Linked DNA regions of Homo sapiens: region 1 is linked to region 2. A link means that fine-mapping ties the variant in region 2 to the expression of a gene that starts in the linked region. Tissue or cell type: macrophages. Region 2 holds a variant in brackets; the other region holds the start of a gene. All regions are shown on one strand. Distances are from middle to middle.

The links. PIP is the estimated chance that this variant, and not a neighbour inherited with it, causes the effect.
Region 1: DARS1 starts here. The variant in region 2 is fine-mapped to the expression of DARS1 in macrophages (Nedelec 2016, PIP 0.95).

Annotation. Positions count from the first base shown.
Region 1 is chr2:135,980,676-135,988,820 of GRCh38, forward strand. It overlaps DARS1 (aspartyl-tRNA synthetase 1), which reads right to left and starts at 4,951. Exons shown (of 16, transcript NM_001349.4): 1 at 4,728-4,951; 2 at 2,722-2,779. The coding sequence starts at 4,793. DARS1-AS1 (DARS1 antisense RNA 1) reads left to right here and starts at 4,501. Exons shown (of 4, transcript NR_110199.1): 1 at 4,501-4,841. RefSeq lists a silencer at 4,588-4,647 and an enhancer at 4,698-4,797.
Region 2 is chr2:135,941,775-135,949,774 of GRCh38, forward strand. DARS1 (aspartyl-tRNA synthetase 1) reads right to left here. Exons shown (of 16, transcript NM_001349.4): 5 at 1,604-1,706. Among named protein-coding and RNA genes, the nearest start is that of DARS1-AS1, 39 kb to the right of the region's middle. The variant G/A (reference allele first, on the strand shown) is at 3,257.

The DNA of each region.
Region 1 (8,145 bases), 39 kb after region 2:
AAAGACAGACACATCAGCAGAAGATTTTAAAAGGCAGATTTGAAAATGCCAAGACTGAAAAAGCAATGGCTAACCAAGCAATCACAACTCAAAACCACACAAAACAGAAAAGCAGAAGTCTAAGAGATATGCGATAATTAGGATAATTTTACTAGCACTTTGGAGAAGAAAAAGGGTAATGGCTCTTCTTTCTTGTGGCATGGCAATTAACTAGCATAGGGGTTCTCAACCTTTAATACACCCGAACATACCCGAAGCCCATGCCATACTCACATCACTATGACTGGCTAACCAGTAACAACCAAGGTAGTAGGATTTCAGTTTGAAAACTGCACTTTTAAGAGTCATGGGCATCAGAGTGATTAATGCAGAGAAATGGAAGCAGATGAGAAAGGAAACCACCTTGAGCAAAGAATTGGCATTTTTGCAGAGGTAAAACCAAAGGCCGAATTTTACATACATAGGTTATCTTTCTCTCTAAGTGGAAGAACGCAACTGTCTGTGGATTTGCCAGCAAAAGAACAACAGCAATTATGTTAATGGCTGCTTTGGGCCTATGTTAAAGACCTAAACTCCAGTGAGCTTCTTTGTGTTACAGCTCAAGGAAGTACAGTTGAGAAAGACACCTAACCTGAAAACAAAGTCTCAAGTGTCTCCTCCTGCTTGCCCTGGCAGAGGAATATCATCCCCTATACTCTATTGCTCATAGTCTATTTTACATAGGTTGAGCATTCCTAACCCGAAAACCCGGAATGCTCCCAAATCCAAAACTTTTTGAGTGCTGACATGATGGTCAAAGGAGATGCTCATCGGAGGATTTTGGATTTTCAGATTAGGGATGCTCAAGTGGTAAATATAATGCAAATATTCCAAAGTCCAAAAAAATAAAGTCCAAAACACTTTTGTGGTCTCAAGCATTTTGGCTAAGGGATACTCAACCTGTACTCAATTACTTTATTTCATCTTTATGTTTTGGAAATGATTTTCAGAAATTTTGGCTTTTTTTTTTTTTTGACAGGGTCTCACTCTGTTGCCCAGGCTGAAGTCCAGTGGTGTGATCGTGGCTCACCGCAGCCTTGACCTCACAGGCTCAAGTGATCCTCCCATCAGCCTCCTGAGTAGCTGGGATAAAAGGTGTATGCCACCACGCCTAGCTAATTTTTTTACTTTCTGTAGAGATGGGGTCTCACTATGTTTCCCAGGCTAGTTTCAAATTCCTGGGCTCAAGTGATCCTCCCAACTCAGTCTCTGAATTTTGGTCTTTTATTGTATTCTTTCCCAACAAGCCTGGGAAAGAAAAGTGATTTTGTGATCATGTGGCAAATCAAATATAACAATAAAATTAACCTAGAGGTGTTTTATTTCCAAAGCATAATATTCATAGGCAGCCCTCTAAACTGGAAGCAGTGCTTCCAATGGGCAAGAATGTAAACGTCTACAATTACTGCACCAAAGAGTGAGAGACGTAATTTGAAGTGTCTACCAAAAGAAAAATTACTGTCAAATAGTTAAGTAAGACAAATCTGTTGAAATTACATATATAGAATAGAAGTAAAAGAAAGGCAAACATTTATAAATAAAAAATCTACAGGTCTGAGAGAAACAACATGAGTCAGGTCAATTTCAAAGAAATATAAGGCCGGGTGCGGTGGCTCACACCTGTAATCCTAGCACTTTGGGAGGCCGAGGTGGGTGGATTGCCTTGAGTTCAGGAGTTCGAGATCAGCCTGGGCAACACAGTGAAACCCCATCTCTACTAAAATACAAAAAAAAAGTGAGGCGTGGCGGTGTGCGCCTGTAGTCCCAGCTGCTCAGGAGGCTGAGGCAGGAGAATTGTAGGAACTTGGGAGGCGGAAGTTGAAGTGAGCCGAGATCATGCCACTGCACTCCAGCCTGGGCGACAGAGCGAGCCTCTGTCTCCCAAAAAAAAAAAAAAGAAATATAAAGATGCCAACATACACTAACAAAAAAGAGCGGTTATAAGAAAAGATAGACTGGGGTCTAAGAATAATTCATTTCATTCCCAGACACTAAAGCTACGAGTAAACAAAATGGAGTGGGGGTGGAGGCTTTAAAACTCAAATCATAGTACTGCCAAAGAAGCCAGAGAAGATGTAAGATGGAAGGACCCATGGACTCTAGGGTCAGATGGCCTTTGGTTCTAATCCCAAGTCTGGCAGACTCTGTGTAAGTCAAGTTTCTTATCTTTCAACTTTGGTTCCTTAGTTTTCAAGGATGCTGTAGAGAATAAGTGAAAATATAAATGTTTGGGAAGAGTCAAGCAAAATAGGAATAAATAATAGCTAAAAACAGTCAGAGAAGTAAAGTTGTGGGGGTTGGGGGAAGTAAAAGAGGTAGCTTTATTAAAGCATGCAAAAAGGCTACATGTGATGAAGGCAGTTATTAGCCACTCTCCTATCTCCTAGACAACGGTTGAATCTTACCTAATAATTTAGGAATATTTAAAAAATATAATCTACCATTTAAAACATACCATTTAACCTACAATACCTAATAACATTTTTTTTCCTTTTCTAGAGTTGGAACCCTAAACTGACAATGTTTACACAGGGTTATGACATCTACTTGGATTATTAATGTCATTTAAGCTTTTCAGAATTATACCTTCAGATTTATGCCAACCTTACTTAAAATTTCATTTAGAGCTTTCCTGGAATTAGAAAGCAAAAAAGCTTTATTTACTGTCACATAGCTACTAACCTGGTTTTTCTTGTGATTGTATCATTGAAGATATTCCATATCTCTCTTTAGCATAATCCTACAAAAAAAGTTTTTTGCATCGTGACTTTTTATGTAAACACTAAGAGCACAGTAAACACATAAATACTAATAATAGAATATAAAAATGAATTTAACTTTCAGGATCATTTTATTAATTCAGAAAGTCAGTAGTTTCATAATGTGGAAATCTCTCATTCATTTACATATGTACTCTACAGAAAACAGAAAAGTACTGTTTCTGGTTAGTTTGTTTTGAAGATCACCACTCCTAGATGGATTTACCATACTTAATAACATTCTCAGATAAAATTTACACATATGTACAACACATCTTAACTACCTTCTTCAAAAAGATGAAACTACTTCAAAGCAGGGACATAAATTTCCTCTGTGAAGGGAGTAGGATGAAGTACCACAGTTTTATTAACTTCCTATTACAGGAAGAAATGTTCAAAGAGAACCAACGTTTTGGGTAAGCTTTCTGAGCACCAGATGTCCACAGTTTTTAGAAACTGGAGATGCTGGGTATAAGCTAACTACAACTTTCCTTTTGTAAAACATCATCAAAAAATTCACCAGCTTCCTGTTTCTAAAAACCAGATTCAGGATACCAGGTTACAGGAGTTTGACACTGACAATATAATAATATCAAATTTCTTGTTACAGATTAGAGTTAGGAACAGGAAACAGAAGACCTAGGGTCCAATCTGTTAACAAAATATACTTATTAAATAGATAAGTGGCCTTTATTTCAATCTTACTTTACCTCTAAAATGATCTAAGATTCTTCTAGCTATAAAATGGCATAACTCTGCCACAATGTCTACCTTGTATCTAGACCTATACTATCTGTAAGGGTACACTGATAGTTTATGTAATTAAGCAGATTAAGAGTACACAAAAATAATTGCCCTAGTTTTTACAAGGTAACTTAAGATCTGTATGAAACAATTAAGTTTCTGTCACTTTACAGCTACCTGTTGGAATCCTCTCCTTTAGAGCAGGAGGGTGCTGGATTTTGTGTTTACACCAAAATAAAACCAGACATGTTTAAGGCGCTTACTGAACAATTTAAAGAAAAAGATAACCCTGGCCAGAGTAGAGAGATACAGTCACACAATGAAGCCTGAGGGCAACAGAAGGAGATTAAATTGTGTGAAGGACAAAAAAGTTGCATTCATAATTAGTACTATTAATATTTCAGTGACTCTTCCTCATTTAGTATTCTAAGATGACCTTACTTCTCATGTTGCTTACCACAAACTCAGAACTCCTTATAGAAAAATTAGGGAGCCAGACGGAAATTAAGGCTTAACAGTACTACAGCACACATAACTTGTAGGATGGTTTCAAACTTTGATTTCTGAAAAGCACCGAAGGATCACTGGGTGTTATGAATTATCCACGTGATTTGGGGTCACTTCACCTCAAATGCATTCTCGGTAACTCCTATTACCTACCTTACCGGGTCACTGAGAGGGAGAAAGTAAATAAAAATGACATGTGTTCTTTAAAGCTGTCACATGGGAAATGGTCATTAAACATATTGGCAGATGGTTTTGCTAAGTACTGTCATTACTTGCTAAAGCATTAGGAACACGAGGGCTGAGTACATATCGATTACTAGTGCTTATTAAAATTTTCCCAGGGATTGTGCATTACGTGCAGGACGTGCCTAACCCAGAGAGACTCAAGTGTGACGCCGCGCTCCTACTTCCGGGGCGGCTGGTTCTTCCCGTCCTCCCCACCCCGGGGACACGCTTCTAGTAGGCCAAACTCCCAGGTGACCCCCGCAAGAAACGCGGTCCGGAGAGGGTCTGGCCCCACTGCTGGGGCAAGGGCTCTAGGCGCCCGGACCCCACGCCCGCAGCCTGCGGAGAACGTGCCGACAAGGACCTGTAGGGCCCCACTCCCCCTCCTCCCTCCCTCGGCGCAGCCCGGCCCAGGGGTCTGTCCTCCCAGGCCCAGGAAAGGAGGAAACCCACTTCCGCCGCGTCCATGATCTCCCGCGGCTTCTCCTGACTCTTGCGGCTGGCGCTGGCGCTGGGCATCGGGACACGGAACTGGGCAGTGGACACCACCCTCCCTCGCAGGCTTCCGTAAGGCAGGCCAAAGGGGCTTCTCCCTCCCTCCCAGTCTCCGCCCTCCCGACCCTGGGGTCTCAGCACACGCGCTCGGACTCCGCGTGGAGGTGCGGCTCCAGAAAGATCGCGAGAGCTGCGGCTATCTCGAGATCCCGGAGCGCTGGCGGCCGCGCGCAGGGTCTCCTCCCACTCTTGCCCCGCCCCTCCGGGAGTTTTCCCGGAGTTGGAGGGAATTCCCGGGAATTCGCGGTAGTTTCGCTGGATTGGCTCTGGGGGCGGGGGCAGGGGTTACCAGGTGGCTGGCTGTAGACCTGGGCGAATGCCAGCTCTCTTCAGCTTCGTCCCAACTGCGACTTCTGCTCCATTCTTCTAACAGCCCTTTCAACTCCGCTCGGCTGTAACCGCAGACTCGTCACTAAAACACCCACCTAAGCGCGGGCCTTGGTTTCTCCTCTCTTGGACTTTCCCGCCTTCTCTCTTCCCCTGGGCGACGTAGCTGCTTGGGGACGGAGGAGGCCTCTTCGCAATCCATTGCCCTGCTTGTTGGGACAGAGGAGTGCAGTTGGCTTGCCAAGGCAGCATGGGTTACCAGTCCCTGTGTAAGTGAGGTGTAAATACAGTGGCAACGACAACAAGAAACGCATACAATTGCATTGATTGCCTGGATCTGTTGCAGTGTTAGGGACAGTGCATAGTGTTGGTTGCCCAATGGGCGAATATCCCCAAGTTAGGCTTTTTTAAAAAACTGATTTTTTAAAAAAGCTATCATTCATGAGTTTTGAATCGAAATTGAAAATAATTTGGAGATTTGGTTTAATACTGTTTCCCCTGCCAGAGTTTGCACTCCGTCGTTTCAACTGACTTGGTAGTGTCTTAGTCTGGCACAAAGTGTTAAGGGGTGCACATAGATCCCAGCGCAAGTGAAAGGCTCTCTCTGGAGGCTCCCCCATGGAGTAGTGAGAAGACAGCCATGGTCCTTGCTTGCCTGTAGCTTTCCTTCTAATTGCAGGTGGTATGAAATTTTATTCCCTATTTAATTGATCAAAGATTATTTACAAACATCTACTTTGTGCCAGGCATTCTATCAGGTGCTGGCAATAAAAAGATAAGTCCTAGTTCCTGTTCTTAATATTACACAGGTACCTAGGCTGATAGATGCGCCATCTTGATACATGCTTCCATTATTACAGAGTCAGGAAGAGAATTTAGCTCTTAAAATGGCTGCCTGGAAGTGACACATTTCACATTCTCCTAGTTTATTGGCGAGAACAAGTCACATCGTCATTCCTGAGTTCATGGGGGCAGGAGAATTTACTCATTCCTTGGGGAGCAACACTGAATATTCATGATCAGTATCACATTCCGTTAAAAAAGGCATCCCATTATACTCATGGGATTCGAATACAGAAGGGGGTCTGTGAAGTTGCTTCATCTTGGAATTTTTTTTAAAACTTGGATTGCCTCAATCAGGTATAGTCCTAATGTATGGACTGGTTATCAGAAATCTGAATACAAATCCCATCTATTATCCCTTTGCTAGGGTAGCGATCTTACCTTTCCATCTGTCCATGAGGCCTGTCCATGTACTTCTTTCTTACTTTGGCCCCGTTGCCTTGATAAAAGTATTCTTATTTAGTCCTGGAATAAGACTGTAAATATATATTCTTGTTTCTGGCCTCCTTTCCTGATAGTGATAGAAAAGAAGCATTTGCCAGATCAGTGGCCACATGTCATATGCCTGAGGTCTTAAGAATCTGCTGTAGTAAAGATACCACAGCTGCAACTGAGGCTGTGACTTGGTTGAACTTGCAGTAGTCTACTGTCAAGTTCCTGAATTTGTCTGGTTTTTGCTGGAGCCACACCGGTGACAATAGGAATGTGATGGAGACTACCAACCATTACGTCTTTAAGGGTTGCACTGATCTCCACTATTCCCCTTGGGGACATGTTATTGTTTATGATTTCCTATCCTAGTTGGGGGCTGGGAAAGTGACTTTTAGAGATTTCCTCTTAGCTTTATCCGGTATGGTAGCCTATTCCACAGACCAAAGAATAGGGGAACAGCTCTGCTATGGTGCTCTGGCTGCTTTGCAGGATCCACATAAGCCATGTAGGCAAGGGCGGGAACTGCAGCTAACCTGAATCTTGGAAAAACATCTTGTGATCCTGCTGGAACATGAGAGGGTGGAAGGCCATCTCCCACTCACTTCCCTGTCTCCCTGAGAGGCTGTTATGGGATGGTTTCTTACTACCTCCTAGATTCTGATGAGGTGTGGGACTTCTTGCCCCCTTCCCTCAAGGGAAATGCAGAATACAAAAATGTATATAATATCTTACTGCTTAACTGGAGTCTAGAAGTGGCTGTTAAGCAACAGAGTGTCCCACTACTCATGTTGCAGTCATTTGGTGCCTTTTGTTTCAGTGATGTCCTTAATGGGACAAGAATCACAGGGAGCTGGCAACTTTGGCTTATTCTTCTTTCTCTCTCTCTTTTTTTTAATTTAATTTTTTTTTTTTTTGAGACAGAGTGTCCCTTTGTCTCCCAGGCTGGTGTGAAGTGTCATGATCTTGGCTCACTGCAACCTCCACCTCCCAAGTTCAAGTGATTCTCCTGCCTCAGCCTCCCGAGTAGCTGGGATTACAGGTGCCCGCCACCATGCCTGGCTAATTTTTGTATTTTTAGTAGGCATGGTTTCACCATGTTGGCCAGGCTGGTCTCAAACTCCTGACCTCAGGTGATCCGCCTGCCTTAGCCTCTCAAAGTGCTGGGATTACAGTAGTGAACCACCGCACCTGGCCTTTTTTTTTTTTTTTTTTTGAGGCAGGGTCCCACTCCGTTGCCCAGGTTGGAATGCAGTGGTGCGATCAAGGCTCATTGCAGCCCCGACCTCCCGGGCTCAAGGGGTCCTCCCACCTCAGCCTTTGGAGTAGCTGAGACTACGGGTGTGCACCACCATGCTCAGCTAATTTTTGTATTTTTTGTAGAGATGGGGATTCACCATGTTGTCCAGGCTGGGGGCTTATTCTTGTTTTCACTGTCTATGTAAGTAATAAACCATCTAAATCTAAAAGCAGCATGTTACAGCTTTACTGATGGAATCATTCAGGCCTTGACATTTCCTTACTTGTCCTGTGTGTTCCTGTCTTGACAGGAATCAGCGTCGGACTCTGCCAATTTCCAATACAATATCCATCCCAAACTATACATTTAGGGAGCTGGAAAATGACTTTTGGGTAGGTCCATGGACCTAGTTGTTGCTGTTAAGAGGGTTGAAGTGCCATTGTGGTTCTTTTATTTCTTTATTTTTTTCAAGACTGG
Region 2 (8,000 bases):
ATATTCAGAATCTACAATGAACTCCAACAAATTTACAAGAAAAAAACAACCCCATCAAAAAGTGGGCAAAGGATATGAACAGACACTTCTCAAAAGAAGACATTTATGCAGCCAAAAGACACATGAAAAAATGCTCATCATCACTGGCCATCAGAGAAATGCAAATCAAAACCAATGAGATACCATCTCACACCAGTTAGAATGGCGATCATTAAAAAGTCAGGAAACAACAGGTGCTGGAGAGGATGTGGAGAAATAGGAACACTTTTACACTGTTGGTGGGACTGTAAACGAGTTCAACCATTGTGGAAGTCAGTGTGGTGATTCCTCAGGGATCTAGAACTAGAAATACCATTTGACCCAGCCATCCCATTACTGGGTATATACCCAAAGGATTATAAATCATGCTGCTATAAAGACACATGCACACGTACGTTTATTGCGGCACTATTCGCAATAGCAAAAACTTGATACCAACCCAAATGTCCATCAATGATAGACTGGATTAAGAAAATGTGGCACATATACACCATGGAATACTATGCAGCCATAAAAAAGGATGAGTTCATGTCCTTTGTAGGGACGTGGATGAAGCTGGAAACCATCATTCTCAGCAAACTATCACAAGGGCAGAAAACCAAACACCGCATGTTCTCACTCATAGGTGGGAATTGAACAATGAGATCACTTGGACACAGGAAGGGGAACATCACACATCAGGGCCTGTAGTGGGGTGGGGGGAGGGGGGAGGGACAGCATCAGGAGATATACCTAATGTAAATGACGAGTTAATGGGTGCAGCACACCAACATGGCGCATGTATACATATGTAGCAAACCTGCACGTTGTGCACATGTATCCTAGAACTTAAAGTATAAAAATAAAGGAAAAGTAAAAATGGAAACTGAAAAATAAAATAAAATAAAAGTACATCATCAAAAAACTTATAGCAAGATAGGTCCATTATTATTCACTTATATTGGTGAGTAGTTTTTCAGATGTGTTTTGTATTTTTCCCTATGTGGCTGTGGTAGACTGTTTGCAAAAATGGCTGCAATACTTCCTCTTGCTCCTGCATGTATATTCCCCTGCAATCATGTTGCTTTTCCTCCCATCAAGGGCTAGAATCTATTTCTCTACCCCTTAAATCTAAGTTTTGCTGTGTGACTTTGACGAGTGGAATATTTAGCAGATGTGACACAAGTAGAAGCTTGAAAAGTGTCTGTTCTTAGGGTTTCGCACTCTTGCCTTTGGGAACCCTCCTGGTACCTGAATATCAACATATCTGGGCTAGCCTGCTGGATGAGAGGAAGCCACAGAAAGAGATGTGCCAGATTTATCAGTGAGCCCAGCCAATGTTGCATGGAGCAGATGAGCCATCTCAGTTGGGTGCATCACAGAATTGTAAGCAAATAAATGTTTGTTGTTTCAAGTCACTAAGTACTGGGGTGATTTGTTATATAACAAAAGCTAATTGATTCAGTAACTAATTTATAAACCTCAGTATTTTACATTAATTAGTAAGAACATATAAATTTGACATGAAAACTATTAGAACCCAAATCTATTTCTATATGCGATTTTATATTTTGAAAAAACTTACCTTCTGAACATGTAACTCAACGTCTTGCTGTGTACAGCTTCCAATTTTCTGATTCACTTTTCTCACAACACCTTCTACATCCACAATGCTCTCTTTGTTGATGCTGTCAAGAGAAAAAATTCCCAACTTGAATCATCTCATCAGAGGTGTCAGAACTCCTCTGGTGTTTCAGCAGTAAAGCTGAATATGTTAAACTCTTTTTTAATACAGTAAGCCACTTGAGATAAAGCCAGTCTATTTAACCTACTTAGAATAAGCTATTACGTAGCATACCTTGTGAGATTCCTTGAAGAGATGATTTTTTAGATGCCATAATTTAGTTACCACTTATAAAATACTCTGGACATAAAAGGTAATAAAACCAGTACCGAATTGGGAAAAGTAGTAAAAAGTCTTTTAATTATTTATTAAAGAACATTTCCCTCCCTATTTTTGAGAATCACTAAGATCAGCATTTCCTATAATGAGAAATACTGGCTTCAATAAATGCAATTACTGGTATGTGATGGAATTAAATAATAGAAGACGGTCAACTGAAAAGATTTTAAGGTAATAAGAGGACATTAGCGTGCTGTTTTGCAATTAAATCCTCACTACCTTTAGCTTCTGAGTATACTCCGTCATCAGATTTATGATTATTGGATTGTGTACTCCCATTTAAAAGGGTGCCTATATGAAGTTTAATATATGATGAGTGTAAAATAAATGCATCTCCTGGACAGCTTATTTTTATAATAACTTGAATTCTGAACACCAGACACTGAAATTCTAAAATACAAAATTTATAAAGTAGCTTATTAAACACAATGATTATTTTTTTAATCACTAGTACATAACCAAGGAAGAAAATGTATACTCCAAAATGGTGATTCCCATACAAAATGTACCAGTTTTACTTTTGTGTATATTCTTGTACTGACAAAGTATATCACAATATAGTTGATGAAAAGGATAAGATTTAATTTTCATGGAAAAATTCTATTCATTCTGATGAGGATTTGGGTCTTTAGTAGTTGTGGTGCAATTAGACATTCCAGAAACCAGACAGTACTTACTTTAAACAAGAGAACACCAGAATCCATTTCAATGAAAAAGGATCAAAATGAGGATAATAGGTGAAGAGTAGTTAAGAAAGAAAATTGTTTATGTCACTTGGCTACACTGCCTAGAAATCTTTATGTCTGTTACCAACTAACTTAAAAAAAAAAAATCAACAGCATGCATATCTCTTGTACTCTCGTAAGTCTCCTGCACTGGGGCTATCACCTAATACCTAGCTAAAATCTTGACTACTGAAGAAACTCAGAATTTATTATGGCAAAAGAAGTAGTTGGTGAACTAAGATAAGGCTCTTCTGAGGCTTGAAGGGATCAAGAGGCTCCAGTGGACTGTTACAAAGTTTTCTAATACTTGCAATCTAGTGTCACTGAACTGAATCTATCTTCAATTTGACTGCCACCTACCAGTAAATGTGATAACTGAGTGTATATTCAGGCCTGGTGAGAATTCTATTGCTTATCTCACACATCTTCACAAGGAAGGTTTTCTCCTCTGTATCGATCAATGTACTGCTTCATCAAGCAACCTGACCTGTCCCAAGTAGAGGTCCACTCTGCTACCTTTCTTCTATATCCCTGACCCCTTGGTCCCCTC[G/A]TCTCACAAACTTTGACTCCTATTAGAAGGCATTTGCTGGCCCTCTGCACCTTCCATTATCAGACAGTCTTCTTCAGGCCAACTCAAGTCAAACACATCTACTTTTTTTTTTTTGAGACAGGGTCTTGTCTCTGTCACCTAGGCTGGAGTGCAGTGGCTCCATCTTGACTCATTGCAACCTCCGCCTCCCGGGTTCAAGTGATTCTCCTGTCTCAGCCTCCTGAGTAGCTGGGATTACAGGCATGTGCCACCATGCCTGGCTAATTTTTGTATGTTTAGCAGAGACAGGGTTTCACCATGTTGGCCAGGGTGGTCTTGAACTCCTGACCTCAGGTGATCCACCCGTCTTGGCCTCCCAAACTGCTGGGATTACAGGCATGAGCCATCGCGCCCGGCCCAAACACATCTGCTTTTAAGGACTGAGCGTCATGCTAGTATCCTTCTAGAAAGAAGGTGGAATGTAGTCAAAGATACTCTGCCCAGGGCTGGCTGTAGGTCCAATTAAAGCAAAAAAAAATTCCCTCTTCTTTCTCATTCAAAAGTACCAGATGACTCTTTTAACCCAGGACCTGAAACATGGAACTATATCTACCTTTAGTACTTTAATTTCGTAGTACTGAGTGCTAAAATATTAGATCAGCTAGTCTAGAAAACAACTACCACTTAGAACATTGTTTCCAGGACGAAACAACTTACAAATTAACTTCTGAAACCACAAACTATTTCTTAAGCTAGGGCCAAAGCTATTATAAATTTCTGCAATTACAAATTGTTCTACTGAATCAACGGGAAAGAAGGCAGGATTAATCAGACATAGAGAACAGTTAATTTTTTTTAACCCTTCCAATCTCAGTATTTCCCCTTATTATATGCAGCTGTTAAAAATCATAACCTATTTAGACATTAGTAAAACTATTCCATGATTTTGGACAATTTAGCCCTATTATCTCTATACAGCTACATCTGTATCTACATCCATTTTTGTCTTACTGTAGACATGAGTGAATTCAGAAGAAAAAACATTAAAATCAAAAAGGTTCCATTTGTGAAAAAGGGTCAGACTATCCGAGGGTTTTATGTGTGTATATATAAAATAGAGTCAAAACAAGAGAGACAGGAATACTTGCGTACATTACTGCAGTAGAAGAATAAAATTCTACTGACTGTAGAAAGAGTCTGATTATATGGTTTTAACTGACATTGTATATGAAGATGGCATAATATCTACAGGAGAGGAAAGGAGGGGAGGGGAAGAAAGAAGGGAGGAGAGAGGAGAATGAGGGTACCACTGCTAGCTTCTTTTCATTACTGGAATCCCACAATCTTCCTTCAGAAACCTCACATGCTATAGGTGATATGTAACCTTCTGAGAAGCAATCCAAGTTATGGGTCCAGTGTTTATGTATAAATTAACTATTGGAAAAACTCAAATTCATTCTCATCCTTTTAGATAAAAGAAAAAAGCAGGGAAGAAAGGGTAGGCGGAATGAAGGAAGTTGAATTATTTTCTTTCCCTCAATGGGTAATCTTGAGCATATCACACTTTGGAGAGCACTGGGGTAGAGAACAAGAATCATAAACCCTGAGAAATGGCTACCGTAGATGATCTGAAAATCAAGGGTGAAGGTATAATTTCTGTATAGGAGACACGTGAAAAAATATTTAACAGCACACAACTCCAGTCAAAGAGGTCACCATCTTGCAAATAAATGGAGACATAAATCGGGGGAAAAAGCAGTTTATCTCTTGCTGCTGGGTCCCAGTATCAGGTTTTGACTCTGACGAGTCCTCCTGAGCATATAGAGAAGAATCACTGGGATCAACTCACTGCAAACTCATCTCCTAGGTTCAAGTGACCCTCCCACTTCAGACTCCTGAGTAGCTGGGACTACAGGCAGGCACCACCACGCCCGGCTAATTTCTGTATTTTATGTAGAGACAGGGTTTCATCATGTTGCCCAGGATGGTCTCGAACTCCTGGGCTCAAGTGATCCACCTGCCTCTGCTTCCCAAAGTGGTGGGATTACAGGCGTGAGCCACCATGCCTGGCAAACACACTTTTATTTTTATAGCTCAAATGAAAGTGATTTTAGCCCAGGCACGGTGGCTCATGCCTGTAATCCCAGCACTTCTGGGAGGTCGGGGTGGGTGGATGACCTGAGGTCAGGAGTTTAAGACCAGCGTGGCCAACATGGTGAAACCCAGTCTCTACTAAAAATACAAAAAAATTAGCTGGGTGTGGTGGCGTGGCCCTGTAGCCCCAGCTACTCTGGAGGCTGAGGCAGAAGAATTGCTTGAACCCAGGAGACAGAGGTTACAGTGAGCAGAGATCGTGCCACTGCACTCCTGCCTGGGTGACAGAACGAGACTCCATCTCAGAAAAAAAAAAAAAAGAAAGAAAGAAAAAAGAGAAAAAAGAAAAGAGATTTAACAACTAAATCCCTAAAGTATTATTTCTATTATTTCTTTAGCAATTCCCTTTTATGTTCCAGGTTCTGTGTGAAGTGCTTTAGGTAGACACTATCTCATTTGCGCTTCACAAAGGCCTACACGGTAGGTATTATCAACATTTTACAGATGAGAAAACTGAGACTCTACAAGGTTAAGTAATTAGACTACCATCACATAGCTAATAAGATCATTTAATGATTATTGCACTAGACAGTTCTGTTACAGACTGACAAATTAGAACTAAATTTAAATATCTCAGAATGCATCATCAGCTCACTATGAAATAATACATTTTCATTCTTAGAAGCTCATGAGCTGCTAGATTGCTTTATAGTTTCTGTGAAAAAAAAAAAAACAAAAAAACAACAACAACTGAAAATAATAGGCCCTTTAGTAATAGTTTCCCAAATGTCCAGGAATCATACTACCTTCCCCAGTAACACTGATGTATCTTGATGTTTTGCTGTTGTTGCCAACCTTAGTAGAAATTCAGCAAAATCTTTAAATAATAATTTCATATTGTTTTATACAAAGTTATATTTAGCCCAGGAGAATTAATCCCACAAACGATCTGAAAATTTCTGACAGCAGATTTTAGACCCGTTTTTTTTCTTAGCACACCTTTAGCATTATCCAAATTTTCAATACAGATGTTGCAGTGGACAGGACTGAAAATAGAAGCTGTTTTTCCTCTAACAGATAAATACCCTGTTCCAACAAAGAGGTATAAAATGTAGGTGCAACTGTTCAAGGAGTTGCAATACACAACAGTATAATGGCCTTGCCTACATTCACCAACTTATCCATATGGATGCTCAAGGGGTATCCACATGCACACCTCTCTTTGGGCCTCAACTACAGACAATATACACTCCTATCACAGCACCTGTATACCCTGCCTCTGCATGCAGTTGTTTATCTCCCTTGCCCTCTCCCAAAATTAAGCTTCTCCTAAGATATATATGACACACATAAATCTTTGCATACTCAAGCCCAGCAGAGTACCTGGACCAGAGCACGTGCTAAATACAAGTTTGTAAAAATCAATGAGACTTCTTCTGAGTATTATTTTGGTATTTTCCAGATCTAATAGTTAATGTAGGCTGGGTACAGTGGCTCATGCCTGTAATCTCAGCACTTTGGGAGGCCAGGGCGGGTGGATCACTTGAGGTCAGGAGTTTGAGAGCAGCCTGGCCAACATGGTGAAACCCCGTCTCCACTAAAAGTACACAAAAAAAATTTAGCTGGGCGTGGTAGCGTGTGCCTGTAGTCCTAGATACTCGGGAGGCTGAGGTAGAGAATCGCTTTAACCTGGGAGGCAGAGGCTGCAGAGAGTCAAGATTGTGCCACTGCATTCCAGCCTAGGTGACAAAGCGAGACTCCGTCTCCCGTCTCCAAAAAAAAAAAAAAAGTTAATGTAGCAAACTGAAATTTTAACCTACCAACTAGTAAAACACCTATTTTAGGTGAAAGATCTAGAAAGGAAAGAAAATAAACAAACTTGTAGGTAGCTAGGTGACTCATTAGAGAATGAGAAACATACTTGTGACTCATCAGCTACCAATAAATCATTTAACCACAATGACTAATATAAAGAAAAATAAAATAAAATATATATGTATACACATAATGGTACTAAAAAAGGCTTATTTTCAGAATCAGAATACCTCTATGTTTGGGGAGAGTGGGAAGTATTATATAAGCACAAACAGCGATATATAAATTTTAACTTTAAAACTACTTTTCACATTAATTGTAGTCCTTTATAGTGGGCACTGTAACTTTAAACTTTAAAAACTTGTGTTTACACTCACTGTCCTCTCTAACAGTCAATACAAAAAGGCCTCCAGGACTTCCTTTAAAAAAAAACTGGCTTTATAACACTTAACCAAAACTAACACAAACTACTCTGTTAATTACTTTAAAATGGCACACATACAAAAAAATTTTTTTTAAAAGAATAAAGGGATAATATCTCAACTTCAGGATCAACTATTAAATATTAGATAAGATGGGGATCCAGAAATACAGGCCTGGATAGATGGGTATTGCATCTTCCTGCTTCTAGACAAATTTCATTTAAAAACCTCAAACCATTTCAGATATATAATTAAGAACCTGTTCCTAGAACCTCTAGGGAATTAGATGTGCCAACCTTCCTATGTAACTCATTCAATTGCTTCATTTTTATATGCATTCATCCATGAGAAAATTGATCTTTCCAACAAATTGATTAAAATAATGTGTGAAGAGTCCTGTGGCACTTAAATCCAATTAGTGAATCAACTTTTTA